3 separate regions of the Homo sapiens genome follow, and regions 1 and 2 are each linked to region 3. The links come from fine-mapping of genetic effects on gene expression. A gene starts in region 3. Each other region holds a variant in brackets. All regions are shown on one strand. Distances are between the middles of the regions. Region 1 holds the start of ACR (acrosin). Region 2 overlaps MLC1 (modulator of VRAC current 1). Region 3 holds the start of MLC1 (modulator of VRAC current 1).

Evidence for each region. PIP is the estimated chance that this variant, and not a neighbour inherited with it, causes the effect. A credible set is the group of variants that fine-mapping cannot tell apart.
Region 1: its variant is the best candidate, but not a certain one, in a credible set for the expression of MLC1 in CD4 T cells (BLUEPRINT, PIP 0.71).
Region 2: its variant is the best candidate, but not a certain one, in a credible set for the expression of MLC1 in whole blood (INTERVAL, PIP 0.71).

What each region holds. Positions count from the first base shown.
Region 1 is chr22:50,730,792-50,740,386 of GRCh38, reverse strand. SHANK3 (SH3 and multiple ankyrin repeat domains 3) reads right to left here. Exons shown (of 25, transcript NM_001372044.2): 25 at 7,175-9,595. The coding sequence ends at 9,075. It overlaps ACR (acrosin), which reads right to left and starts at 2,183. Exons shown (of 5, transcript NM_001097.3): 1 at 2,075-2,183; 2 at 913-1,116; 3 at 410-693. The coding sequence starts at 2,151. LOC105373100 (a long non-coding RNA gene) reads left to right here and starts at 2,218. Exons shown (of 2, transcript NR_134637.1): 1 at 2,218-2,997; 2 at 3,283-4,558. RefSeq lists an enhancer at 1-686. The variant A/G (reference allele first, on the strand shown) is at 5,273.
Region 2 is chr22:50,059,914-50,069,824 of GRCh38, reverse strand. It overlaps MLC1 (modulator of VRAC current 1), which reads left to right. Exons shown (of 12, transcript NM_015166.4): 10 at 1,270-1,392; 11 at 5,627-5,791; 12 at 8,168-9,911. The coding sequence ends at 8,242. Among named protein-coding and RNA genes, the nearest start is that of TTLL8, 6.6 kb to the right of the region's middle. The variant G/A (reference allele first, on the strand shown) is at 5,255.
Region 3 is chr22:50,080,436-50,090,173 of GRCh38, reverse strand. MLC1 (modulator of VRAC current 1) reads left to right here and starts at 4,748. Exons shown (of 12, transcript NM_015166.4): 1 at 4,748-4,819; 2 at 5,213-5,448; 3 at 7,001-7,090. The coding sequence starts at 5,272. MOV10L1 (Mov10 like RNA helicase 1) reads right to left here and starts at 168. Exons shown (of 27, transcript NM_018995.3): 1 at 1-168. The coding sequence starts at 85. RefSeq lists an enhancer at 4,476-5,100 and a silencer at 6,820-7,114.

The sequences.
Region 1 (9,595 bases), 650 kb before region 3:
CATTTACAGATGAGGAAACCAAGGCCCAGAGAGTGGAAGGCACTGTCATACGGCCACATAACCTTATCTGGAGCTCTTCTCCAAAGGCTGTTTCAGGGTTGCTGCTTGTTTCCAGGATCCAGCAGCTTGGGCCCCAGGTGCCAAATACAGACACAGCCTCAACCCCATTCTAAGCAACGCTGCGCTCTGCCTGCACCTGCTGTCAGCCCCCCCGTAGACAGCCAGACGAGTCACCCATCACGTGACCTGGCACAGGGGACTGTGGAAGGCCACAGTGATGGCTCTACGTGTAGCGCCGTGAGGAGGATGAAAGCAGCCTGGCTGGGTGTCAACAAGTGACCGCTGCACCTCAAAGACCACCAGGAGAATGGCCAGCAGCGTCCCCCCTTGGAGGCGCTCCCATACTCACCTTTCTCTTCTATATATCCCCAGCCGGCCACCCAGCAGCTCTGGGAGCCTCTGGGGAGGCCTGCCTTAAAGTGGGGCAGGCAGCCCGGCCCAATGAAGCGCCCACACGAAATGGGAGGGGTGATCTCCACGAGGGCAATGTCATTTCCCTCTGTCGCAGAGTTGTATTTTTCATGAATGATGATTTTCTCCACATATCTCTCTTGCAGAGGCGCCTTTACTGGTTTATTGTTCCCATATGTAATTTCCTTTGCTCCGAAAACCAGTCTCCAGTCATGCACATTACTGTGGGCACAAAGGTAAGCCAGGTCACAACCGGCTGGACAAAAGCCTGGTGACAGCGACCCTCAGGGCCTTCCCCTAGCAAAGGTCTGGACCAGCCCCCGGAGTCTTGCAGCCACTTGGCCCAGAGCCCCAGGGAGACGCTGCACAGCATCCCCGGGGAACGCCCCTCTCTGAGAAGAGCCGTTCTGAAGACCTCCCTCAGTGCATCCCTACACGTACTTTTTGCCGACGAAGCAGTGAGCAGCAGTGAGCACCCATCGTGAATTCAGCAAGCTGCCTCCACATGTGTGGTACCTGTGGCTGTTGTACGTGAAGATCTGGAGGCTGACCATCCAGGGCCAGGCCCCATGCTGTGCAGCCTTCCCGCCGACGATGCGGACACCACCCTGTGGGTTTTGCCTGAACCGTAACCCACAGGGGCCACTGGGGAGAGACCAGAGCACAGTTCAAACCTGGCATGAGCACAGCCTGTCCTTGTAACTCCACAACTGAGGGGAGGCAGGGACATGGGGTTGGGAAAAGTGGGGAAGAGCTTCCGGGTTCTGGGAAAGCAGGGGCAGCCTGCGCTATGTAGGAAGCCGCAGGCTCTAGGAAATGGTTCTGGGGCCACGACTTCTCAGGTCTTGTGGGTGCAGTCACAGATGGAGAAAGAGGAGGCCATAGGAAGCCAGGACAGGCTGCATGGGCCCTGAGGGATGGCCCGTCCCTGGGCAGAACAGGAGGGTAGAGGTGGGGATGCGGGGCCTGGGGACAGAGGGGTGTAATGGCCTGAGGTCCTTATAACCAATCTTGGGTGGGAGACTCAGGGAAGTCAGGTGATGAAGGGGGTCGTTGACAGTGATGGGAGGAGGGATAGCAGCCAGGGGCAGATACTGTGGCCCACAGGTGTAGGGGGCACACTGAGAGCAGTGGAGGTCTAGAGGTGGAGGCTCTGGGAACTGTGTCACGGGTGGGAGGCCACATATAGCTTGGGAGGTGTTGGTATTTCGGGGTACCTTGGAGTGAGAGAGCCTACTGGGGGGTAGGGGTGCAAGCGGTGTGAAGCGATGATATCCTGGGGCTGTTGGGGGCAACCACGGGTTGGGACAGCTGTCTGTGGGGGGATAAGGGCTCCCAAAATCAGGACTTCATGTCTTCAAGACAGTGGGGTCAGTCCCTGGGGGAGTGGGAGAGGCACAAGGAGCCTGAGGTGCTGAGGGGTCCATCTCTGGAGGAAACCACGAAAGCTGAGGGTCTGGGGGCTCCAGGCTGCTGATTCTGGGAGCAGGGGGGGTCCAGGTTAGGGATGCAGCCTCCTTTTCCCTAGCCCTGGACAGAGGGAGTCGGGGTGGTACCTGCTCCTCAGAAGATCCTTCCCCCACCAAGGTGCCCCGACACTTACTCACACGTGGCGTTATCTTTAGCAACCACGGACACTGCCAAGACCAGCAGAATGGCAGTTGGTAGCATCTCAACCATACTCCTGGCACTGCCTGGCCTGCAAGCCTAGTGACCTCACAAAGCTCCGTGGCTGCCTGGCCAATCAGCAGGGGTGACCCCCACCCCACCCCCAGCAGTCAGGCCAGGTAAGAGCCCCTCGCCTTAACTGGTTTGTGCTGAAGAGACTTCTTGACTTCCTGCATAGGCTCCCCCACCACCAGGATGATGGGGGACTCCTGTGCAGCCCCACTCCCTCTGTCCCAAGGCCAGGATCTCCATTCCCAGTAACTCTTGCGAGGTCCCCACATCACCCAAGGCTCTGGCTTTGTGCAGGTTCAGAGTCTGCCTCTCATGCGTGCTGTGACCACTGCAGACTCACAGACTGAGGAGCGGCTCAGCCCTTCAGTGATGAGACGGTGCAACATGTTTGTGGATCAGAGGAGTCAGGGTCAGCAGATTAATTGATCCTTAATTGTTGTTGGGGAAGTTTTCTTTTCCTCTTCCAAGTGAATGCTATCAACACACTTTTCCAAGAGTCATTTTGAATTTTCCTAATTTACAACTGCAAAGCCCACCTTCCTGTCCGTTGCTGAATATCACAAGGTCTCCTATTATCCTGAATGTCTCCAGATCGGCTTTCTGTGACTGAGGTGGAGCAAGGTGTTTTCTCCTATACTTGAATGTCAAGAGTTTTCATACAGCTACCTGAATATCATGAAGCATCATTTTTCCCATCTGATCATCAGGAACTAGCATCTCACCTACCAGAGTGTGACAAATGCTTATTGCAAACACCTGAATGTTAAAACATTTCCCATCGCCTGCAAGTGTCAGGAGGTCACACTCTTACCTGCATGAGGGCAGCCTTACCTCTTCTACCTGAATGTAAGATCTCAACCAGCCCGAGGGTCAATAGGTTGCACATCATCTAAGTGGGTGTCAGAAGGTCCCATGCCTCCAACCTGAGTGTCAGGACATCTCATCTCCTATTCCTGAGTGTTGAGTTTTCAGATTATCAGATGATCTTGATTTATCTATTTTCTCTAACTGAATGTCGTACTTATGACATCCTCAAATGAATGTTCAATAGGTCTCGTATATCTTACCCAGTATCAGGGAGTGATCACCTCCTTCTTTGAAAGAAATAACAACTCTGTTTTTCCACTTCAGTGCCAGAGGCCCTCATCGCCTCCACCTACAGGTTAAGAATTCTCACCTCCACCACCCAAGTGTCACCCTGTCGCACTTTCTCTACCTGAAAATCAAGAGGTCTTACATCTTCCAGCTGAATGTCAAGAGGTTGTATTTTACCTATATGAATGTTCTGAAGTCTCCACCGGTATACCAGAGTGTTGGGAGATCTCATTGCCCCCATCTGGGTGCCAGGGCATGTCCTACCCTCTACTTGAATATAGTCTCATATCCCTGTCTAAATGGCATGGAGCTTTCATCTCCTCTGCTAGAGTATCATGAGATCTCCTCTATTCTGGGTGTCCAAAGTTCTCATCTCAACCCCCTGAGGTCTGGAGGTATTCTCACCTCTTCCTGGTTGTCTGGAGGTCTCATCTCCCTTACCTGAGAGTCATGAAACCTCCTATCTCCTATATGCCCTATCTAAGTCATGACACTTTATCTCCTCCGAGTGTCAGGGGATTTTTCTACCTTTATGTCAGGTAGCCCCACTTCCTCTAGCTGAAGGGCATACAAGTTCTATTTCGTGACTTGAATGTGAATAGGTTTCAGCTGCACTACTGAGTGTTAGCGGACCTCACTTATTTTAACTGAGCATCAAGTTGTGTCTCATAAATAACCAGAAAAAGACTTTGGAAATATGGTTCAAGAAATGGCAAGAAGAATTGAAGAAGTGGGCCCAAGTGCAGAGGCTCATGCCTGTAATCCCAGCACTTTGAGAGGGTGAGGCAGGCAGATCACTTGAGCTCAGGAGCCCCAGACCAGCCTGGGCAACACGGCAAAACCCCGTCTGTACAAAAAATACAAAAATTAGCCAGGTGCAGTGGCACCTGCATCCCAGCTACTCAGAAAGCTGAGGCAGGAGAATCATTTGAACCCAGAAGGCAGAAGTTGCAGTGAGCCGAGATCGCACCATTGCACTCAAGCTTGGGCAATGGGAGTGAAACCCTGTCTCAAAAAAAAAAAAGAAGAAGATTAAAGTTTTGACTGTTAAAGAAAATATTATTCGGGTGTTTTTAATGGATAGCACCTATTTCTTTACAAATATTTAGGAGGTATCAATAAAAAAGTCTGAAGACCCAATGTCAGTGTCTGGATTCTAGAAGACCATTACAGTTTGACTCCGCAAAGCTTACCCACTTCTGATTCTAGAAGGGGCTGCCAGTCATCGTGCCTGCCCGTGGCTATAGTGATGGTTGCGGGAAAAGTACCTGGCCCGGCCCATTTAATTTTGTCATTAAACTAATGGAAGCAACAAACATCTCAACTCAGAGTGACTTTGTCTGACCTTCTTCATGCTGTTCTAAGAGCGAAGGAGAAATGGGTGACAGGTCTGGGGCCAGAGGGTGGGGTCCCATCCGAGGGCATGGCTCAGGCTGAGGCAGAGTGCTCAGCACAGGGGGCAGGATGGGGGCTCCCCATCTCCCCTCAAACTCCTCCCTGCTCTCTGCTTCCACCCTGACCCCCAGGCACCCCTCCAGCTCATCCCAGCCATTCTCGCTGCTCCTGCTCACCCCAACCACCCGCTGCCTTCGCCAGCCGTGCCCACTTCTGTCCCCATGCCTTATTTACCTGGGCAATCCAACTCCCACCCCAGTTTTTCTCACCCTGATCTCCAATCCCTTCCAGCCCCCAATCCCCTACTTTTCCATTCCTGTCCCCACCACCCTCCGTGAGGAGCAGAAACCTTATCCAACCATCCTCAATGTCCAGCCAGCCAGGAAGGCAAGAAGATCCCAGAGGGAGTAAGAATGGTTGACGCAGTGAAACCTTGAGGGCCGAAAAGGGGTAGGTTTCAGGTCTTCACCCAGGGGAAGCAGGTGCCTCGGGGGTGGTTTAAGCAAGCAGGTGAGGGTCTGGGTGGCGCCATGGAGAAGGACGAAGGCCCTTTGAGGCTATGGTTGATGACAGCTTGAAAACCAGCCTCAGGCTGGGCAAGGTGGCCCACACCTGTCATCGAAGCACTTTG[A/G]AAGGCTAAGGAGGGTGGAGTTCTAGACCAGCCTGGGCAGCAAAATGAGGCCCCCATCTCATAAAAAATAAAAAAAAAATTAGTCAGGTGTGATGGCCCACGCTTGCAGTCCCAGCTACTTGGGAGGCTGAGGCAGGAGGATCGCTCAATTCCAGGAGGTTGAGGCTACAGTGAGCCACGATCATGCCCCTGCACTCCAGCCTGGGTGACAGGGTGAGACCTTGTCTCAAAACAAAACAAAAGCAGCCTCCATGTCCTGGCCCTGCCCCAAAGTTGTCCACAGGTCTTGGGAGTGGCTGGGGGGTGCCAGCCCACAGGAAGAGCAGAGGCCACACAATTTCAAATTTTCAACATTTCCTAATCCTCATCTTATTTTCAGATTAGAAACTGAGGCCATCATAAGGAAAGGGCTGCACGGGAAGTCAAGGAGGGGGGCCCTGCAAGGGTCTGAGTGTGGGAGCAGGGGGCCCCTGACTCGCTCTGGGCCTGAGTGTGTGGAATCGGGAGGGTGGGTCTCCCTGGGCTGCACATGGAGCCCTAGGCCTCCATGGGGACTCAGAGTCTGGGGCTAGTGGCACTTCTCCACGGTGCCACCGGCCCCACCCCTGGCTAAGGTTAACCACAGAGCCAAGGTATGCGATTGTCATTCTGTCATATTCACGCGCCTCCTCAACCCAGTGTGTCCAGGCTCTGAAACCACTGCCCCTCCTGTAAGCAACCCTCCCCACCGGGGACGTCACATCTCTGCAGCCCCTGGCCTCAGTGCTGGGTCCTGTGCCCTCTACTTTCTCACGGCTCCCTCTTGATTGCCTTTGCCCACTTGCCTTACTGTTTGCCCTTCAAGACATAGCTCACCACCTCCTTCCACTCAGCGAGGGGTCTCTGTCCCTCCTGTTGGCTGGCCACCCCCACCAGGTGCCACCCAGGACGTGTCTTTTTTGCCACATTATCGGCTGCTCACATGACTGCCTGTGCGCTCCTGAAGGACAATGTCTTGTCTCTGGTGCTCAGGGTGGGAGCAAAAAGGAAACCTCACATCCAACTGGGCAGACAACCCAAGGTGAGAAGCACCAACTTGCTCTAATTTGAGATAGCACCAGGGCCGTGCAGACGCAGAGCCTAACATCTAACTGGGACTCCAGGGAGGGCGGGTCAGAGAAAACGTCCTGGAAGACAGGATCCGGAGATCAGCCTCCAAGCTATGTATGCTTGATGCAGGCAAACGATGGGTGATCCAGGCAGAAGGAAGAGGGCATGTGTGAGACAGAGCCCTGAAGCGTCATAGCGGCTCAGGGATTGCAGGAGGTGGGGGGAGACTGGCGAGCAGCATGTGTGCATGGGGAGGGAGCAGGGGATGCTGGCAGGGCCACGGCAGCACTGGCTGGGCCGGACTGGCTCACGGGGTCCATCCATCAGCTGCATTTACAGACAGGCTGGTGTTTGTCAGCAGAGGGCAGAAATGGAAACAGAAAACCAGTGAATCAGCAGGGAAGGAGTGAGGGCTAAATCTGGTCTGCAGCCGTGGGGTAGGACAGTTGCGAGAGATGCGAGCGGGTTCCAAGACAGGAGCAGCAGAATTTAAAAGCAACCGGACGCTGGCGGGAGCAAGTCTTAAACCCTAGGCTTAAAACCTGGCAGGGGTCATGGAGGACAAGTGGCCTCCAGCTTAGGAGGTGCTACTCAGTGGGTTGGTGAACAGAGAAAAGCTTTCGGTGCAGAAGGCATGGGCTGAGTTCCAGCAGACTCGGAGAAGATGCTGGAAGATGCCAGGTGCCTAGGCATGGAGGTCAAAGATAGGGATCTAGGAGTCACCCGTGCATGTGGTCCAGGCTGAGGAGGTTTGTGTGGCCGGTATGAGGGACAGACACAAATATCCCCTCAAGCAGGCAACTGAGCCATGGCTTCATTTCTTATAAATTTATTACATAATAATATTATAATAATTATTATCAATAATAATAATATAAGAAACATAGATCTCTGTGGGGCGTATCACAACGTCAGGGTCAGGAGGCCTCAGGACTGGAGCAGGGGGTGAAACCCCCCGGATGGAACTCCATACAAAAGGAGGTGAAGCGGAACTGACCCTGTAAAGTTAAAAACCCAAATTGAACGGAACCAAAACCCACAGGTGAGTGTGAGACCGAGTGTGTATGTGGCAGTCTGTTACAGTGACTGCTGCTGTGTGACCTGGACTGTTGGCGGAAGGATGAGTGGGTGTGACTCTGTGCCCAGGGAGTGGGGCCGGTGGGCCAGGGCGGGGCGGGCAGGCACAGACCGGCGTGCCAGGCCCCTGGGTTGTGAAAACTTCTGTTTTCTTTTTTTTTTTATTTTATTAAAAAAAGCTAGAAATATAAACAGAAACTTGTGAGTGACGTGGATGGAGCTTAGTCCAGACTCCAAACCCTAGGTTTAAAAACGTCCCAGGGCCCCCCACCCCACAGGTCATCGCTGAGTGTGAGGAGTCACAGTGTGGGGGGCTGGGCACCCTCGGGGGTCTTTGACTCTCCCCAGGGCCTGTGGTGAACTGACTCTAGGGGTCCCCCTATGATGCCCTCAGAAGCCCAAGGTGGGGGCGCTGCCTCCAAGGGGCCCTTGGGGCCTCCCCAAGCAGCAGGGATTCACCAGGGAACCCCGCTCAGGCTGGGTGAGGCTCTGGAAGGACAGGCTGGGCAAACAGCTGGACCCAGGGTGCAGGATGGCCTCTGACTTTCTTTGGAAGAGGAGACAGGGTGCTCTCACAGGTACACCCCACGCATGCACACGGTGCACGCCTCCACGGCCCCGCGCTAGTCCAGAGCGGCCCCTGGTGGCCACTCAGTAATCAGGCACACACACGGCTCCCACGTGCTCAGACGCACCCAGTTTCACCCACACACATAAAGGGCAGGACAGGAGACTTTGGGGTCCAAGGCAGGGAGGCTTCTCTGCTGTAGTTGCCCAAGAGCATGGGGACCAAGCTAGCCCCCTCCTTGGGGAGAGACCCTGTGAGGAAGATGGCTGCGGTGGAGCGGCAGGGCCCTGCCCTCATCCCCCCCGGCCGATGGTCTCCCAGGCCGGCTGGTCCCGCGGGTGCACAGCAGGACCCGCGGCCTGCCGCCCCTCCCACCACGAGCAGCACCTGAAGGGTCGGTGGGGCACACTAGAGCTCAGCGAGGCGAGGGGCCGAGCTGGGGCCCCAGGGCGGGCCACTAGGGCCCTGGCCAACCCCAGACCAGCTGGAGCGTCCCCTGCCCCGTTGTGGGGTGGCAGTGGCAGTGAGGGGCCGGAGATGGAAGACTGGGCAGCTGCAGTGGGACCAGTGGAAGTAGAAGGGAGGGGAGAGGAAACTATTACGGACAGAGATATTTGTTCCTTTTCTCGTTCCAAATATAGAGTGGATTAAAATATGCAAAACAGGGGGGCTCCTTGGCCCCCATCGAGAATCCCAATGTCTCCCCCCTCCCCCCGAGTCACCAAGGCGGGTCCTGACCTCGCATGCTGGACTAGGTTCCCCCTCTGGGAGAATGGCCACCAGGAGCTGCGAAGGAGGTGGTCACGCTAGGGCACCCCACCCCCGGCACCTCCCGCCCCAGCCTCCCTGGTCCACGCCCTTCCTGACTGTGCGCTGGGTGGGCTGGGCGGCCGGTGAGGGCACTAAGCAATGTACAGGGCGAGTCTCCGAGCAACAGCAAACAGGACGATTCATGCAACATTCCTGGCCCGGGCGCCGTCGTAAGGGGCAGGCCGAGCCCGCGGCCCGGGGTGGGGGTGGGGGGCCCTGCCGGCAGGGCACGGCCGGGGCGGGAGTGGGGGTGGGGCGTCAGCTGCCGTCCAGCTGCCTGAGCGCGCGCTCGATGTTCATGCGGTGGCCCACGCGCGTGACGCCCAGCTCCACGAAGTCGTCCTTGGTAAGCGCGGGTAGGTGCGCGCCTTCTATCTCATGGTCCTCGAAGCGGTCGCGGTGCTCGCCTAGGTGGATGCTCTCCAGCCAGTCGCCCACGTCGAACTTGCTCCAGAGCTGCAGCGGCTTCTGCTGGAAGGGTCGGCGTGGGCCGGGGGCGCCGGGGCCGGGGCCGGACGCGGGCGAGGGCAGCGGCGACGGCGAGGGGGAGCGACTGCGCGCGCTCACGCTGCGCACCACGAAGCGCACCTCCTTGGGCTCGTGCGGGATGGAGAGGCTGGACGACTTGAGGATGGTGGGGGGCGTGAGGCCGAAGGGCCGCCCTGCGCCCCCCGCGCCCGCCCCCAGCCCCTCCACCCGCTCCAGCGACGCGGGCTTCACCGGGCTCGGGGCGCGTCTCGCCACGGGGTAGCGGCCACTGGGCCTCACCGAGTACGAGG
Region 2 (9,911 bases), 20 kb after region 3:
CCATGCTTGGCATGAGTGAAGGCTGTCTCTGAGACTTGATGGGTCAAACAGGAAGATTTGGGGTGGGTTAAAAGGACAGACTTCAGAGCAGTGAAGGAGGTGACCCATGCGGAAGGGCTATTTTTTCAAGAGTGGAGAATTGCAGGTAAATGTTTTTTGTTTCTTGGTTTTGTTTGTTTGAGACAGAGTCTTGCTCTGTCACCCAGGCTGGAGTGCAGTGGTACGATCTCAGCTCATTGTAACCTCTGCCTCCCGGGTTCAAGCGATTCTCCTGCCTCAGCCTCCCAAGTAGCTGGGACTACAGGCATGCGCCACCACACCCGCTTAGTTTTTGTATCTTTAGTAGAGATGGGGGTTTCACCATGTTGGCCAGGCTGGTCTCGAACTCGTGACCTCAGGTGATCCGCCCTCCTCGGCCTCCCAAAGTGCTTGGATTACAGATGTGAGCCACCTTGCCTAGATGGTAAGTATTTCAAAACTTGTGGCACTGTGCTGTGAATGAAAAGGCAGGCTGCTCATGCCTGTAATCTCAGCACTTTGGGAGGCCAAGGTGGGTGGATCACAAGGTCAGGAGTTGAAGACCAGCCTGACAATATGGTGAAACCCTGTCTCTACTAAAAATACAAAACAATTAGCCAGGTGTGGTGGCGCATGTCTGTAATCCCAGCTACTCAAGAGGCCGAGGCGGGAGAATTGCTTGAACCCAGGAGGCAGAGGTTGCAGTGATCAGAGATTGTGCCACCGCACTCCTGCCTGGGCTACACAGCTAGGCTGCCTCTCAAAAAAGAAAGAAAGGCAGGCCGGGCGCGGTGGCTCATGCCTGTAATCACAGCACTTTGGGAGGCCGAGGTGGGTGGATCACCTGAGGTCAGGAGTTCAAGACCAGCCTGACCAACGTGGCAAAACACGGTCTCTACTAAAAATACAAAAATTAGCTGGGTGTGGTGGCGGGCGCCTGTAATCCCAGCTACTCGGGAGGCTGAGGCAGGAGAATCACTTGAACCCGGGAGGCGGAGGTTACAGTGAGCCAAGATCATGCCACTGCATTCCAGCCTGGCGACACAGCGAGACTTGTCTCAAAAAAAAAAAAAAAAAAAAAGAAAAAGAAAAAAGAAAAGGCAGAGGTTTCAGCAGGAGTCATGCAGGGAACCAGCTTGGGACTATGCCCATGAGTGCCCGGCCATGCCCGCCCCCCCAGCCCTGGCCACGCCCGCTGTCCTGGGCTCCCAGGCTCCGGCCGTGGTCCTGCAACCCGCGCTTTTTTTCCAGGTGGAGGTCCTGATTGCCATAAGCAGCCTCACGTCTCCGCTGCTGTTCACAGCCTCTGGATATCTGTCATTCAGCATCATGAGAATCGTGGAGATGTTTAAGGATTACCCGCCAGCCATAAAAGTGAGTTGTATTTTATTTCAGAGCCCCCCAGACATGTGGTGCTCTGCGTGTTGGCCTGGCCCTTGCTGGCTTTGCCTGGGACTCTGGGGGCGCTGGCTCCAGGGACAGCTCCAGGAGGCACCTCCTCCGCTGTTCCTGGGCAGCGGTGACCGTGCTCCCCAATGCCAGCCTGGCCCCAGGGCCTCGGGGCCTCGATTCCGCCCTGTATCTGGGGCCACCACCTGCTTCACAGGGACCTGGGACCCACTCTGTCCCTGAGCCCATTTTAGAATCTGTCCTGGGTTTATGAGACATGCTTTTCGGATTTGCATCAGAACTGCATTGAGTTTAACAGGTGAATTTAAGGAGAATTCAAAGTCCTGTTACTTTGAGCTGACCCAGTAGGAGCTTATCTCCAACACGACTTCTGAGGCTCAGGCACGTGTAGCTAGATGTATTTCTTAGATACCTAGTGTTTTTTTGTTTTTTTGTTTTTTTTTTTCCAGTATAAGTGGTTTTGCACCCAAATCATTAGAAGACCTGTATTAAGCTGTTTGCTCCAGGTCAACATGCGTGTGCTGATGGGGAATGGAGTCACTGCCTGATGGGGGGATGGAGTCACTGTCTGATGGGGGATGGAGTCACTGTCTGATGGGGGATGGAGTCACTGTCTGATGGGGGATGGAGTCACTGTCTGATGGATGGATGGAGTCACTGTCTGATGGATGGATGGAGTCACTGTCTGATGGAGGATGGGGTCACTGCCTGATGGGGGATGGAGTCACTGTCTGATGGGGGATGGAGTCACTGTCTGATGGGGGATGGAGTCACTGATGGGGGATGGAGTCACTGCCTGACGGGGGATGGAGTCACTGCCTGACGGGGGGATGGAGTCACTGCCTGATGGGGGGATGGAGTCACTGCCTGACAGGGGGATGGAGTCACTGCCTGACAGGGGATAGAGTCACTGCCTGATGGGGGGATGGAGTCACTGCCTGACGGGGGATGGAGTCACTGCCTGACAGGGGATAGAGTCACTGCCTGACGGGGGATGGAGTCACTGTCTGACGGGGGATGGAGTCACTGTCTGACGGGGGATGGAGTCACTGTCTAATGGGGTAATGGAGTCACTGTCTGATGGGGGATGGAGTCACTGTCTGATGGGGGCATGGAGTCACTGTCTGAAGGGGGATAGCGTCCTCGGCCTCCCACAGGTGCTGGGATTACAGGAGTGAGCTACAACACCCGGCCCAGGGTTTTTTCTTCACTTCTCTTGTGTTTGCTTCACCCACTCCTACTCCAATTATTTTGTTTCCTGTGACATTTAATATATCTCCTACTTCATGTTGTCTTACAATATGCATATAATTGTTCACGATTACAAGAGACAATATTACCACCCAGGGGCCATCTCCTGAGTGAGCCTGAGGCTTCCCTTTTATCTTCAGCATGCATTCTGCTAGCAGGGGACGGCCACACGCCATCGAAGTCGGCCCCTTTCTGTGTGGGGTTATCCTCTGGGTTCGATACCCCATTAAGTTTAATGGCCTCTGGTTGTATTCCATTTTAGGGCTTGGTGCTTTTTTTCTTTTTAAAATGGTATTTTTTGAATATATAAAATATTTATGTGGTTCAAAAGCCAAACTATAAAAGACGAGCTCAGAAAAGCTGTGGTCTCATGCCTGACTGACCTGCTCCTCTTATGGGCAACCAGATGATAATTTTTTTTTCTTTCTTACAAAATAGCTTGTATACTAGAATCACTATTCTGTACCTTGCCATTTTTTTTTTTTTAAGATAGAGTCTCACTCTGTCTCCCAGGCTGGAGTGCAGTGGCACAGTCTTGGCTCACTGCAACCTCTGCCTCCTGGGTTCAAGTGATTCTCCTGCCTCAGCCTCCGGAGCATCTGGGATTACAGGCATATGCCAACACACCCGGCTAATTTTTGTACTTTTAGCAGAGACAGGGTTTCACTATGTTGGCCAGGCTGGTCTTGAACTCCTGACCTTAAGTGATCTGCCTGTCTCGGCCTCCCAAAGTGCTAGGATTACAGACGTGAGCCACCGTGCCCAGCCATATACCTCGCTTTTTAGTTATGTATTTATTTATTTTATTTTTCAGAGACAGGGTCTCACTCTGTTGCCCGGGCTGGTCATGAGCTCCTGGGCTGAAGCGATCCGCCCACCTTGGCCTCCCGAAGTGCTGGGATTACAGACGTGAGCCACTGTGCCCAGCCATGTACCTCGCTTTTTAATTATGTATTTACTTATTTTATTTTTCAGAGACAGGGTCTCACTCTGTCGCCTGAGCTGGTCATGAGCTCCTGGGCTCAAGCGATCCGCCCACCTTGGCCTCCCAAAGTGCTGGGATGAGGAGGCTTCTGCCACCGTGCCCAGCCCCTTGCTTGTTTTTTTAAACTTAATAATTTATCCTGGTGTTTTCTCGATACCCAAGGGGATCAGAGCTCTTCTGAATTCCTTCATCGCTCCTGACTGCCCGGTCAACCCAGCCAGTCCCTAGTGATGGAAACTGAGTTATTTCCAACCGTCTGCTACTATAAATAACTCCTCCGTGAACAACCTGCACGCATCTTCCTTTTGAATCCTCAGCGCATCTTTAGGATATCCAGCTAGGAGAGAGACTGCTGGGTAGAGGGTAGGTGCAGCTGTCATGCTGATAAATCTCGGCGACCTCCTCAATGGGGGCCGTCCACCTTCCCTCCTGCCAATGGCGTGAAGGTGCTCACTTCTCCACAGCCCCCCACAGAGGGTGTCACGCTGGAGTTCGGTGACACGGGTGGGAGCACCTCCGTCTCAATGTGGGTGAGGACGAGGACCTCTTACAAAGCATGAGGACGTCTGCATTGCTTTTTCAGTGGACTCTGCTCATGTCTCCTGACCATTTTCCGCTAACCCTGGTGCCGGGGGAGACCAGCTCCATCTGTGATGGAGGATACAAATGGTGGTCTCAGCCTGGCGGCTATTTCTTGTTCTGCTTGTTGTGATTTTTGTTATGTGAAAGCTATTTTTTTAAATAGTTAAGTTGATTAATATTTTCTTTAATGGCTCTGGATTTTTTTTTTTTGAGACTGAGGAAAGCATAGGCTTTGCAATAAATGGTGTCTCAACAACCGAAGAGCAAAGACCACATGGGGCCCATGCCTTTACCATCCTCCAGGGTAAACTCCAGCTGGGAACACAAGTACCAGACTTTCTAATAATTACTTAAAATCCAGGCCGGGCGTAGTGGCACATGCCTGTAATCCCAGCAGTTTGGGAGGCCGAAGCAGGCAGATCACCTGAGGTTAGGAGACCAGCCTGGCTAACATGGTGAAACCCCGTCTCTACTAAAACTACGAAAATTAGCTGGGCGTGGTGGCGGGTACCTGTAATCCCAGCTACTGGCGAGGTTGAGGCAGGAGAATCGCTTGAACCTGGGATGTAGAGGTTGCAGCGAGCCGAGATCGCGCCACTGCACGCCAGCCTGGGTGACAGAGGGAGACTGTCGCAAAAAAAAGTTTTATGTTAACTTGAGAAGAGCTGTTCGTTCTGTTTCTTCTCTTACTTTTTGTAGCAGTGACATTGGATAGATGTTTGGCTCTTTTGTGTGTTAACATTTAGTTGCTTTGTTTTTCTTGAGCCAACACGGGAAAGCTATCCATGGGCACAGAGGGTTTTGGGTGCTCCGTGGTCACTCTCTGGCCCCCTGCATCCTCGGCCGCTCCCTCCATCCTCTTCCCTGCCGAGCTCACCGCGCTGCCTCCTGCCCCTTCCTTCCTAGCAGCTGGTGCTCAGGGGTGAAGCTGTTGGGGGTCTGTGCACCCCATCCCCCCAGGACGGCTGCCCCCTGTCTCCTCCGCTCAGGATCCTGCTGACACGGAAC[G/A]GTCAGCGCTTCTGCCTCCCGCGGACATTCTCTCTGGCTCTGGGACTGAGCCTTGCGCGTGTTGGAGCAGGAGGGGTGGAGCGACTTGACCACTAGCAGCCAGCACTGTCCACGGGGCCTGGCAGTGGCTCGGTCACTTTTATTCCTGTATGTTGAACACAAGCTGATGGAATTTAAAGCAGAATTGACCTCATTAATTGAGCTAGAATGATTATCATCAGGTTGTTGAAATAGCAATGCGTTTGGGTTACTGGGGCTCCGACTCGAGCCCTGGCACCTGCTCTTTGTGAAGGCCGTGGGCACGAGGGAGCTTTGGTCTCCTGGGCTGGAGGGCGGCTGGGCCACTCTGCTCACACCTCCTTCCGCCTGCAGCCATCCTACGATGTGCTGCTGCTGCTGCTGCTGCTAGTGCTCCTGCTGCAGGCCGGCCTCAACACGGGCACCGCCATCCAGTGCGTGCGCTTCAAGGTCAGTGCAAGGCTGCAGGGTGCATCCTGGGACACCCAGAACGGCCCGCAGGAGCGCCTGGCTGGGGAGGTGAGTGGCCTGCAGGGGGAGGGGGCACTGGGGAGGTGAGTGGCCCACGGGGGTGCCCAGCCAGGGAGGTGAGAAGCCTGTGGGGTGGGGGGAAGCTGGGGAGGTGAGTGGCCCACAGGGGTGCCCAGCCGGGGAGGTGAGTGGCCTGCAGGGGGAGGGGGTGCTGGGGAGGTGAGTAGCCCACAGGGGTGCCCAGCCGGGGAGGTGAGTGGCCTGCGGTGCAGGTGCTGGGGAGGTGAGTGGCCCATGGGGGGCCCAGCCAGGGAGGTGAGAAGCCTGTGGGGTGGGGGCACTGGGGAGGTGAGTGGCCCACAGGGGTGCTCAGCCAGGGAGGTGAGAGGCCTGTGGGTTTCAGGGGTGCTGGGGAGGTGAGTGGCCCACAGGAGCACCCGCTGGGGAGGTGAGAGGCCTGCGGTGGGGGCTCCTGTCCTGGTGAGGGCCTCCGAGGGCCACACGACGTGGCCCTCGAAGATTCATTGTGCCACTTTGTATTTTTAAAAACACCCCAGAAAAACCCCGAAGAAGTAAAATGTCTTTCTTTTCTTTTTTTTTTTTTTTTTTGAGAAGGAGTCTCAGTCTGTCACCCAGACTGGAGTGCAGTGGCGCGATCACGGCTCACCACAACCTCCGCCTCCTGGGTTCAAGCAATTCTCCTGCCTCAGCCTCCCGAGTAGCTGGGACTACAGGCACCCGCCACCAAGCCCAGCTAATTTTTCTATTTTTAGTAGAGATGGGGTTTCACTATGTTGGTTAGACTGGTCTCGAACTCCTGACCTCATGATCCGCCTGCCTTGGCCTCCCAAAGTGCTGGAATTACAGGCGTGAGCCACCGCGCCCAGCCGTAAAATGTCTTTTAAAAATACAAACACAAAGCCTGGGTAAACCCAGACCCATCCCTGGGAAATATTCTGGACTTAATGCTTTCAGATTTGCTCTTAGAGACACAGAAGAGGGCTTTGTGAGGACTCCCACAGGTCCTGAAGTTTCCTTCCCTGGTCTCTGGTGGGGACGCGGTTCTGCAGGGAAGGCAATGCCCACCCAGCCTGGCACATGGGGCTCCGTAAAGCTGGGGTGTCAACAACTTCTGGCTGTCACTGCCTGAACAATGTTCCCCCGGGCCCTGCCTACTGTCTTGCTGCCCCCACATCTGAAAGGCAGAGGCTCAGCGTCTTCCCCCCACCGAGCTACGGGTCCTGGTGGTGCTCCCCTGGGCAAACCTGCCCGCTGACCCTCAGGTGCAGTGACCACTAGGACTGTCACCTTGATGCCCAAACACCTGGGCAGCCACTCAGCGGGGCTCTGAGTCCTGCCCCACCTCTAGGCCATCCTGGGCGGACCGGCCGCTGCTCTTGCCCTGCACACCCTGCCCTCCTGTGTTCAGCACACCACCGGCCTCAGAACCTTGGTGCAGAGCCTCCAGTGCCCGCTAAGTCCCGGAGGACGCTCTCTTGCCCTTGGCTCGTTTCTCAGCTGACCCCGTCGCCCCCACCCTCCACCCTCCCTACTGCTGTTCCCTTAACCTGCCTCCTCAGTTGCTTTGCTGCCATTTTTCCTGGCTGTGGTCAGTCTCCCTGCTAGGACGGCAGTCCCTGGGCCTGAAATGAGACCCGCCTGGGTTTCTGTTGTGACCAGCAAGGCCCAGAGTCAGACGCATGAGGTGTTCTCCCCAGATCCCAGAACTGCTGGTCCCAGGGGCTCAGGGTGGGCGGCTGGGGCTCAGGGTGGGCGGCTGGGGCTCAGGATGGACGGCTGGGGCTCAAGGTGGGTGGCTTGGGCTCAGGGTGGGCGGTTGGGGCTCAGGGTGGGCGGCTGGGGCTCAGGGTGGACGGCTGGGGCTCAGGGTGGATGGCTGGGGCTTAGGGTGGACGGCTGGGGCCCAGGGGCTCAGGGTGGGTGGCTGGGGCTCAGGGTGGACAACTGGGGCTCAGGGTGGACAGCTGGGGCTCAGGGTGGACAACTGGGGCTCAGGGTGGACAGCTGGGGCTGGCGCTGTCCTCCCTTTTGCCTGGAGGCATCTGGTTACCTCTGCCTTAAGTGTTTTCTTCCTCAGCCGTCAGGCACATGCCCAACCTTGGGCGGCCTCCCCCCGCTCCCCGCCCCAGAGCCAGGGCAAGGGGCCGAGTGAAGGGCTGCTCCATCCCAGGCTCGGTAGAAACCGTGTGTGCGGGGGGGGATGCAGGCGTTTCTGGGACACTGAGGAAGTGAAGGCTTTTATCTCTTTCCACAGAGGCCCAGGGGTTAGTTTCCCCACTTCCTTCACATTCGAAGAAAACTTCTGAACGCTGGCTGCTCGCTGCCTGTGGCCGAGTGGCGTGTCCACCTTCCCGCCGCACAGGTGGCCCTGGTGAAGTAACACCTTTCCTGTCTCGGTTGCAGGTGGCCAGGAGCCCCCTGAAGGAGTTCGACAAGGAGAAAGCCTGGAGAGCCGTCGTGGTGCAAATGGCCCAGTGACCCCCAGACGCGGAAACCGGGTGGCAGCGCCCAGCCTGGCCCCAAGCATGGAAACGCACAACCCCTAATCGCCCTGAGCTACTGCTTCTAACACCTCTTTTCCCTTGTGTGAGGGCAAACCAGGCTGCAGGTGGGGTTTTCACTTCCTAGGGTAGTTTAATTTTAAAATAGGCCAATGTTGGCTAGTCTGTGCCTCAGTGAGATCAGTCAGCTCCGAGTGGCTCCCGTGTCGTAACAGCAGGAGCATGGCCGCAACTTCCCAGGCCGAGGAAGGGCCCCCGGCTCGGCCTCTTGAGAGCCCCACCCCTGAACTGGCCCCAGCTCCTCTTCCTGCCTCTCTCATGGCTTGGGCTGGAGTGGGCTCTCTGGACCTGACCAGACTGTGGGTCCCTGCGTCTCCTGCCCACTCTGACCGGGCTTCCTCCCTCCACGCTTAGGGTCTGTCCCGGGTACTCAGTCAGCCCAGTGGGATCTTACCCACTTCCCTGCAAGGTGCACCTGCCCCAGGCTCAGGCTGCCCAGCGGCTCTTCCTGGACAGTGAGAGCAGGGCTGGGCGCCTCTGTCCTGGCCCGGGAGCCGCAGGGGCCCCTCCTCCAGAGCCTGGGCGCAAGCGACACAGGCTGCCGCTGCTCTCCCAGGTGAAATCCACACCAGTCCACGCCGGGTCGCCTGCCCTGTCTCCCTACTTAGACCCAGTCATTCTAGAGGGATCCACCGCCACACTGGCCGGCCCACGTCCTGGGTGCTGTCATGCCCAGCTTGGAGTGCCACGTGGCCGCTGCCCACGTCCCGGGCACTGTCATGCCCAGCTTGGAGTGCCACATGGCCGCTGCCCACGTCCCGGGCACTGTCATGCCCAGCTTGGAGTGCCACGTGGCCGCTGCTGTGACAGGCAGTGTTCTTGGGGGTGGGGCTGCATCCAAGGCTTTGTAAACCGGCTGGACCACGTCTCCCTGGCCCCAGTGACCGGGGGAAGCTGAGCCCCTCCCTCCTGTGTTTGCTCCCATTACTCAAAATGCAGGACAGATCAGGTCAGAGCCCAGGAATTCTCACAGGTTCACCCAGCGCCCTCTACCTCCTAGCAAGTACTTTGTCTTGATCCTCACTGAGAAGGCCCCAGGGCAGCGGTCTTCTCCATCTCCGCTGTTTTGGGGTCTTAGGGTACAGCCCAGGCGGTCACTGCCCACCTGCCAGGCTGCAGGGACAGTTGGGTGTGAGAATAACACTGGCTTTGGGTAGTGCCATGGCCAGGAGTGGGTTTCCCTGCGTCTCCTCGTCCCGAGGGCGCCTGGGTCCTCCCAGCTGACGGCAGTAAATCCACAGTGAGTTGGGGCGACTGTGAAACTGGAATGCTGTTACTTTGATAATTACTTTCCAGCAGGTGTTTTCCTTCACAATGGTTTTGTTTCTTTCCTTCTGATCTGAGAAGACATGAACGTTTTCTCTTCACCGCCGTGGGGTGTATTGACTGGTCCCCCATGGGCTGCTGGAAAGGCCCGGAGATGCATCTGTGGCCTGGGGCCATCAAGATCAAAGAACCAGGAGGCCTGGGAGATGCAGCTGGATGGGGCGGCCTGCAGACCCTGCCAGGGGGTTTGAGGACCCTCCCAGGTTTCCCACTGCGGAACAGGAGTGACTCTGGCTGCCAAGATACCTTCATGGTGTTCA
Region 3 (9,738 bases):
CGGGCTCCAGCTGCCCGGCTTCCTCCCTAGGGGTGTCCGCCGTCCTCCAGAAGAAGGCCACCAGCTTGGCTGCGAGGCTCAGCATGGCCCTCGCCCGGCCTAGGCTGCCGTCACCGCCGCTGCCGCCGCCCGCACGCGCCCGCGCCGCTCCCGCCGCCCGCCACCAATGGGGTCGCCGCGCCTGGGCATGCGCCTTGGGGTCGTTGCGCGAGCCGGGACCCGTAGCGGTCAGAGGTCGGCGGTTGGCGCCTGGCAGCTCCTGACAAGGCGAGGTGCCTGGTGGGAGTGACGTCATGCCGAGCGCGCAAGGCGGTGTGACCGCCGGGTGGGCGGGGCTTCGAGCGGGCGGGCGGGGCCTCGCGTGGGTGGGCGGAGCTTCGAGCGGGTCCGCCTTCTTGCCGCCCACACATTAGGGAAAAGTGCGCTTTCACCACCCAGAGTGATGTTAGGAGTCGTTTTTTGTTGGTGTTTTTTATCAAGTTGAGGAAGTTCCCTCTATTCCTGTTTTTCCAAGAGTTCTTATGAGTGGGTGTGAAATTTTCTGCAACGCTTTTCTGCATGTATTCAAATGATCCTGTAGCTTTTTATTTCAGCCCATAGGGAATTACATTGTTTGGCTCTCCTTGGAAAACTCACTTGGTCACGATTCGTTATCCTTTTGGTGTATTGCCTGACTCAGCTTGGTAACGCTTTGTCCAAGGTTGGGGACGGTGCTGGTGAAGCAGATTGCTCTGTGGCCGACCTCCCGTTTTCTGTGTCTGTCTGGTTTGGGGTCGGTTTAAGCCGGGCCTGCAGTGACCTGGGAGTAGGATGGGGTAACTTATTCCCTAAAAATTGTGGTAGTATTCGCTGGGGAACCCATTTGGGCTTCGAGATTTCTTTGTGGGAAGGTTTTTAATGAGAAATTCACTTCTGCATCAGCTAGAGGGCTATTCAAGTTATCAAGGTAATATTGAATAAACTTTGGTAATTCTTTTAAGGAATTTGTCCATTTCATCCAATTATTAGATGTCAGATTATTGGCATAAAGTTGTTCAGCATATTTCCTTATTATCCTTTTAACGTCTGTATGGTCCATAATGATGAGCCATCTTTCATTCTTGACATAGGTAATTTATCTCATCCCTCTCATTTTCCTTGATCAGTCTATATTTATCAATTTTATTGAGTTTTTAAAAAAAATCATCCCTTGATTTCATTGATTTTTCTCTATTTTAAAAATATCTTTACACTTTGCGAGGCCAAGGTGAGCAGATCACTTGAGGTCAGGAGTTCGAGACCAGCCTGGTCAACCTGCCAAAATCCTGTCTCTACAAAAAAATACAAAAAAAATTAGCCAGGCATGGTGGCGCATGCCTGTAATCCCAACTACTTGGGAGGCTGAAGCAGAAGAATCACTTGAACCCAGGAGGTGGAGGTTGCAGTGAGCTGAGATCACACCACTACACTCCAGCCTGGGAGACAGAGCAAGACTCTGCCTCAAAACAAAAACAAAAACAAAATACGTATATATATCTTTACTATTCCAGTGGTTTCTGTTTTTTATTATTTCTTTTTTTTTTTTTTTGAGATGGAGTCCTGCTCCGTCGCCCAGGCTGGAATGCAGTGGCATGATCTTAGCTCACTGTAGCCTCCACCTCCCGGGTTCAAGTGATTCTCCTGCCTCAGCCTCCAGAGCAGCTGGGATTACAGGCGTGCGCCACCACGCTGGCTTTTTTTTTTTTTTTTTTTTTTTTTTTTTTTTGTATTTTTAGTAGCGACAAGGTTTTACCATGTTGGTCAGGCTGGTCTCGAACTTCTGACCCGCAGGTGATCCACCCGCCTTGGCCTCCCGAGTGCTGGGATTACAGGTGTGAGCCACTGCGCCCAGCCCCGACTTATTTTTGATTGACATAGCTTTATTTTCCTAGGTCAGATCTGTCAGTCTGATGACAGCCTGGACCTTGCCTGTCCATGGATGCAGAGTGTACTGATAGTTCTTGCTGTGGGAAGGGAGAGAGTGGCGCACTCCCTAGCATTTCAAATCCCCGCTAAGCCTGTGTCTTGGGCTGGGTGCTGGAACACATACAGGAGCCAGCAGGGTCCCAGGGACCTACTGGTTGGTGGGAGATTAGCTTGGAAACAAGAGCGAGCTGCATGAGGGCTGGTGGCTCATGGGCTCCCTGCCAGGGCAGCTCGCAGCGGGTGCTGTGCCTGCAGGGCTGCCCCTCAGCTCCCCAGCTCGGGCCACTCCCTGGGATTCTGGACTCAGTAGACCCGGCAGATGCCCACAGACATCTCGGCCTCATCATGTCCAGAATGGAACTCCAGATCCTCGCTCCACACCTGCTCCACCCTGGTCTTCTCATCTCTGTCCTCACTGCTCAGACAGAACTCAGCAACGTCGCCCTGACAGCAGATTGCGTCCGCTCTTCAAACCCTGTTCAGAGCCCAGTCCCTCCTCACCACTTGCCCACTGCCACCTCAATGCCAGGCAGCACCTGCTCCTCCCACCCCCCAGCCTGCTCTCCACCCAGTGAGTGACCGGATGCTGCTCTGCCCAGACCCCTCCAGCAGGTCTGTCTCAGAGTTGAAGCAGAGTCGTCTCCATACCCACAGGTGCTGGCACCTGGCTGTCCTACCTGTATCCCCCTTGCATGGTCCTCGCCTGCCTTCCCCAACCTGTGGCCTTTGCTTCAACTCTGCCAGCCTCCCCTCCCTGCCTCCTTCTCACTGAGGCCTGCCCTGGCCCCTGCAAACAGCAGCCCCTCATTTCTCTCCCCTGACTTCTTTTCCCTCATAGAGGAAATCATGTGTGTCACTGGATGCATTAGTCTGTTCTCACGCTGCTATAAGGACATACCCAAGACTGGGTAATTTTAGAGTCAAGTCCTTATAAAGGAAAGAGCTTTAATTGACTCACAGTTCCACAGGGCTGAGGAGGCCTCAGGAAACTTACAATCATGGTGGAAGGGGAAGCAAACATGTCCTTCTTCACAAGGTGGCAGGAAGGAGAAGTCTTGAGCAAAAGCGGGGAAAGCCCCTTATAAAAGACCATCAGATCTCATAAGACCTCACTCATTGTCAGGAGAACAGCAGCATGGGGGTAACCACCCCCATGATTCAATTACCTCCCACCGGGCCCCTTCCACGACATGTAGGAATTATGGGAATTACAATTCAAGATGAGATTTGAGTGGGGACACAGCCAAACCATATCACTGTATAACACACTAATTTGTTTATCCTGTGCACTCCTGTGCCCCCAATGAATGTAAACAGCCTATAGGAAGGACGTCACTTCTTTGTCCACCCCATAAATGTTTGTTGAATGTTGAATGATGATGGGACATCAGCAGGCAGAGGGATGAAGGGCATTTTAGGAGCAAGAATTTGTTGGAAGATTGTATGAAAGAACAGGGCCTGTTCTAGAAACTAGTGTTGCCAACAGAAACTTGGGAGCATTTCTCAAGTGATGACTTATGATCTGGGAAGCTGAGGGATTTGCTCTGCAACCTCTGGTTCAGGGCAGCTTGTTTGTATTTCTAAGTGGAGAGCAACTTTTGAAAGAAAAAAATGTTGAAATCCGATTAACATTTTTTTCCAAACAAAAAGAAACACAGGAGGATTCGATCCAGTTGGACCCACTCCCACTAATCCCGTTTATCGCTTTAAAAGATAGTGAAGTTTGGGAGGTTTCTCAATCCATTAAAATGAGTTCTTGACTTCACAGATTATAGTTTTTGAAAATTATTTCTCATCCTTGCTTGATTGAAATGAAGACAACAGAACATTGGCTGTGGTGGCTGGCACAAAATTAACTAACCCTAAAATACTAGTATAGCTTAAACTTTCGTTTATTGCTAAAAATTTATCACTGCTGTTTCCTGTGGGGGTGAGGTTGAGCAAAGTGTTTTGAGCTGCATTTATGCGTACTTGACACTTACGCATTTTGATCGAGGTGATTTAGTGGGCATTTTCACTGGGACAGGGATGCTTGTATGTGTAATCTTACTAAAAGCTAATAAAAACTTACTAAAAGCTAATAAAAGCTTACTAAAAGCTTCTTGCTTGATTGAAACGAAGACAACAGAACATCCCATGGTCTGGAACCTGATGACTTTGCTCAAGTTTTAATGTGGGTTCATGGTTTAAGGAGCTGGTTTTTCAGAAACTTTAGTTTGAGCCTTTTTACAATGTGCACAAAGAACCCGTTGCTGTAGTTGTCAGGGTGCCAGTGTCTCTGGGCGACACACATTACTGTGGTTTTTCTCTGCTTGGTGAGCAGAGATAAAGGGGGCAGCAGGACCGGGCCCACCAGCCATCCGGGCTGCCCACGCAAACCACAGGGCCGAATCCGGAGCCGCCCAAGGCCACACAGCTAAGCCGAGTGCGTGAATGCTTATGTGACCGTGTGAAGGAGGTTCCCACCGTGTGGCTGTGGGGGATGGAAAAAGGCTACTTGGAAAGATGTAGAAGACCTTCGAGTAAACAGTTACGTTTCAGAAACAGAGCCTGCTCAGAATGTGTACTTGGTGGGATTCTATTCTTAGGGACGCTTCTTTCTTCTGAGAGACCCGAGCTCTGTGGCGAGTGGCACAGGCAGGGCCCCTTCCTTTCCTAGTTGGGTTCTGACAGCTCCGAGGCAGTGGTTTACACAACCAACACGAAACATTTCTACGATCCACCCGATTCCTCCCCTCATTGATATTCAGGAAGCAGCTCTCCTTCCCCTGCCTTCAGCTCAAGTTTGCTGAGCTTTTGTTTCATTTGTGAATACTTCTTGCTGGAAGTCCCTCACCCAGAGACCAGTGCTCCCAACGGCAGAGCAGCGGGGGAGGTAAGTGCTCAGACATTAAGCCGTTGAGTAGAGGCATGTTTTGCAATCTCTCGTTTAGCTACCAATTGGAGCAGTTTAACGTGCTTGAGTCCCCGGCGTGATGTGTTCATGGACGAAGTTGCCGATGGATGTTGTCAGGTGTTGCACCTGGAGGGCCCAGATGGATCAATGAGGCATTTAAAGTGTAGAATCTCACCCTGAACCCAGACTATTCAGGTCCGTTTTTCTAGGAAAGTTATTTCTTTTTCACTTTTAGATTCAAGTGCTCATTTTCTTCTTCAAATTTAGAGCACTTCAGTATGAACAATATTTCTTTTGTTAAAAAATATTTCTTGGAAACAACTTATTGAAGTTTCCTCAGAGTGGCCAAAGCCGATGATAATTTTATTCCAGATAAAGAACTGGTGACACGTGGCTGTACATTCAGCACAGCTGTGGTGTCCCCAAGTGCCATGACCCAGGAGCCATTCAGAGAGGAGCTGGCCTATGACCGGATGCCCACGCTGGAGCGGGGCCGGCAAGACCCCGCCAGCTATGCCCCAGACGCGAAGCCGAGCGACCTGCAGCTGTCGAAGAGACTGCCCCCCTGCTTCAGCCACAAGACGTGGGTCTTCTCTGTGCTGATGGGGGTGAGTAGCTCCACACTAAGCCCTTGGAGGGCCACGAGCATCTGGTCCCTCTGGTGACGGACTGCAGCGCCCTGGAGCCCCAGGTGGGACAGAGAGAGCAACTCTCAGACTAACCCTGCTGCTGCAGAACTCTTGGATGCCGACGAGCTTGTTTTGCTTGTGTTTTCACAATTATTTTTATTAATTTATGGGTGTCTGTTGTGCCAGCCTTGAGCTGCTCCAGGTTGTGGCTTAGTCCCACCAGGGTAGGGACAGTCCCAGGGCCATGAATGGGCCCCAGGAGTCTCCATGACCCTCGGCTCTGGGGGCCCAGGGTCCTCTGAGGGGTCACCTGCAAAGGTGGGAGGAGGCGTCTCAGGCCTTCAGGTCGGCCCTCACAGAGAGAACCTCAGGGACCTCCTCCTCCTAGGGAGGGCCTCAGGGGCCGGCTGGGAGGGAGCTGGGGAACAAAGGAACAGGTCTGGGGTGGACGGGCAGCGCCAGATGTCCGAGGGATTTCCCTGGGGTCCTGGCCATTCCCTGCACAGTCGTGGGCACAGAGATGATTGGAGGAGCCACTTGGGCCTGAGTGTGTGCAGCTGCTCAGAGCCATGCTGCAGGACAGGCCTCTATGCAGGGACCCCCGGTTCCGTGTAGCTTGGGCTGAGAATGAGATCCAGGCTGTGATTTCTCCCCTCCCTGTGCCCTGGCCTCCGCCGGCAGCCCCTGCAGCACCCACAGTGGTCCTGCCCACCTCCCGTGGCCTGAGCATGCCCCACCAAGACAGGCGTCTGCCTCGGAGCTGGGGACAGAGGCGGCTCCCGGGTGGTGGTGGCCATCTCCGGGCTCTGCCCTCCTCCACCTGGTGCCCTGGACTTGGTCGCAGCCCCTCCCCCGCCCAGGCCAGATCCCCTCTGCCCCAGACCTCGCTTCCTCTGCCAGGACCCTGGGTCCCAGTGACCTTTGATACTGACTCCCCTCAGACTCACCCCGGGGGTGCTGTGCGTGAGAGAGAGCCCCCTCCCCACCGCACCCCTGCAGTGCTGTGCGTGAGAGAGAGCACCCTCCCTGCCTCCTGCTAGGGTCTTCCCTGCTCAGGAGCCCCTGGGCCTGGAGCCCCTGCCTGGAGGGATCTTCTTCCAGATCTGGAAATTAGGTTCTGCAGACGGAGGGGGATGGGCAGTTGTTTTCCAGTCTCGTGTCTGGACCTGGGTGTGGGATCTGGAAGACTGCACGCACAACATGTTGGGGCAGGAGTATTTTGTGGGGAGAGGTGCCATTCCTTGCTCTAAATATTGGCAGATCCCCTTTCTTCTCTCCTCCAGATAACAGCGTGGGGGGTCCATGCTCCGACATGGCTGGGGGAGGCTGGTCCATGTCCTGGGCTGCGGCGGGGCTGCGTCTGTCCTACAGGAGGAGTCCAGGATGGGCGGGTCCCAGGTGCGGGTGTGGTTGATGCTGGGGGACGTGGGTGAGTCACCAATACACAGACAGTGAAGCAGAAGTTGAAGGGTCAGGGTCCAGCCTGGGGACGGGGCGCGTTGTAACCTGGGATTCTGTCGCTGTCTTGCAGAGCTGCCTCCTGGTGACCTCGGGGTTTTCGCTGTACCTGGGGAACGTGTTCCCGGCTGAGATGGATTACTTGCGCTGTGCTGCAGGCTCTGTAAGCAGCTTCCTCCACGCCTCTGCCAGTGCCCAAGCTCGCCGGCACGTGCTCTGGTTTCTTTGTTCTGAGATGTGCAGGTTTCTGTCACCTGTACCTCATTCAAACCTCTTCATATGGGCCGGGCACAGTGGCTCATGGCTGTCATGCCAGCACTTTGAGGGGTGGAGGTGGGTGGATCACCTGAGGTCAGGTGTTTGAGACCAGTCTGACCAACATGGACAAACCCCATCTCTACTAAAAATACAAAAATTAGCTGGGCGCGGTGGTGGGTGCCTGTACTCCCAGCTACTCAGGAGGCTGAGGCAGGAGAATCGCTTGAACCTGGGAGGCGGAGGTTGCAGTGAGCCCAGATTGTGCCACTGCACTCCAGCCTGGGCAATGAGAGTGAAACTTCGTCTCAAAACAACAACAACAAGAAAAAAACAAAAAACTCTTCATATGACTTTAGTTTCACGTAGAGTTCATCACCTTTGAGAATTACTGATGAAGCAGGCCTGAACCTTGCTCTGCAGACGCCTGTGCAGGGAATTGCGTGTTGATTCTGAGCCTGCGGCTGCGTCCTGCCAGAGCTGGCAGCATCTGCCCTCAGGGGACTGGGACCTGTGCCCCACATCCTCCCAAAGCTTCATGTTGTGTTTTTAGAAACTTACACAGTGCCAAGGCCGGTGGAGGCACCCACTGATCCTCAGAGCAAGGGAGGACAGACAACCGCTGTCCCCTGGTCCTCTGTGAACCCCGGCCACTGCCTCCCCAGCGTCCCGGCAGCTAGAGCACCATGCTGGCTGACCCCTGGGCTCTGGCCCGCAAGCCATGGACCCCATGCCCCTCTGGCCCGCAAGCCGCGCACCCCATGCCCCTCTGGCCCGCAAGCCGCGGACCCCATGCCCCTCTGGCCCGCAAGCCGCGGACCCCACGCCCCTCCTGCTTCAGCTGGTCCCGAGCTCTCCCCTCCTCTCGCTTCCACATGCCTGCTGGGTCTCTGGCCCCTGCCCTTTCTCTAGGGACACTGTTGGTGACTGTCCCCAGCAGCGCCCCCGAAATGTCTTAAAAACAAAGTGGATGCCCCGCCCCGTGCTGTCCTGGGTCTCTGCTCCCTTAGAACAAAGCCCTTTGGGGCAGGTGACCCGTCCCACTCTGCTGCCCTCTCTGGAAGCTTCTCCGTGGCCTTTATCCTCACCATGGGAGCCGCCCTTGTCCCAGTGGAGCTGTGAGCTGTGCCCCTTCAGCCTCAGCGGCTGCCGGATATGGGCAAGTGCCCACCCCCGCCCAGCCTTGGCCCCACTCGGCCCTGCCCCCGGCCTTTCTTCTCTACCCTGGGCCCTCGTGGCACCTGAGTGGGTGCTGAGCTGAGCCTGGCTGTCCTGGCCCTAGCTCTGCCCCTCGCTCAGGCCCCGACGGGGCTTCTTCTGCCTCCTCACCCAGCACTGCTGTGCTCAGCCCCTCAGGGCCTGCACCCCCGACTCAGGGCCCGGGGTCCCATGGCTGCAGGAGCAAGGCCCTGCACGGCAAGGGCCACAGGCCTGGGCTGGCCCGACTCCATCCACCTCCCTGTCCCTGACGTCCCAACCTCCCTCCCTGGCCCTGGACTCCTAGCCTTGGTGTGGCCCTGTGGGGACAAGAAGGCTGAGGACAAGAAGGCTGTGGGACTCCTTTCTGCCTCCCTCACATGCAGAGTCTTGCTACTTCCTTTGCTCCTTCCTTCCTCTTTCTTTCTTTCTTTTTTTCTTTCTTTCTTTCTTTGACGGAGTCTTGCTCTGTCACACAGGCTGGAGTGCAATGGCGCCGTCTCTGCTCACTGCAACCTCCACCTCCTGGGTTCAAGCAATTCTCCTGCCTCAGCCTCCTGAGTAGCTGGGACTACAGGCACCCGCCACCACGCCCAGCTAATTTTTTTTGTATTTTTAGTAGAGATGGGGTTTCACTATGTTGGCCAGGCTGGTCTCAAACTCCTGACTCTGATCCACCCGCCTCAGCCTCCCAAAGTACTGGGATTACAGGTGTGAGCCACTGCACCAGACCTCCTCTTTCTTTCTTTCTTTCTTTCTTTCTTTCTTTCTTTCTTTCTTTCTTTTTTTGAGACAAGGTCTCACTCTATCACCGAGTATTCACAGCTCACTGCAGCCTCGAACTCCTGGGCTCAAGAGATCCTCCCAGCTCAGCCTCCGGAGTAGTTGGGACTAGAGGTGTGAGCCACTGCACCCGGCTGATACTTTTTCCTTTTTTGGGTAATTTTCAGCAAAGACCAGGTCTTGTGCCTGCGTGAGTTACATTCTAGGCTTCAAAGCTTATCCAGCTAGAAGAGCCTTCATTAACAAATATCTTTTTAGCACATCAGAAAAATAAAAACTTCTTTCAGAATAAATTATTTTGAAGTACCTGGGGGTTGGGCGCAGCGGCTCATGCCTGTAATCGCAGGGCTTTGGGAAGCTGAGGTGAACAGATCATTTGAGCCCAAAGTTAAGATCAGCTTGGGCAACAGAGTGAGACCCCATCTCAAGAAAAAATTAAAACTGAGAAGTACCTGGGGGCCTTCTAGTCAAGCCAACCCACTGTGTTGCATGGACTGGCAACACTGTTTTGTGAATATGATTCAGATCCTTCTGGAAGCGCAAATGTTAGAGTATTTCAGAGTCTCAGTTGCTCAG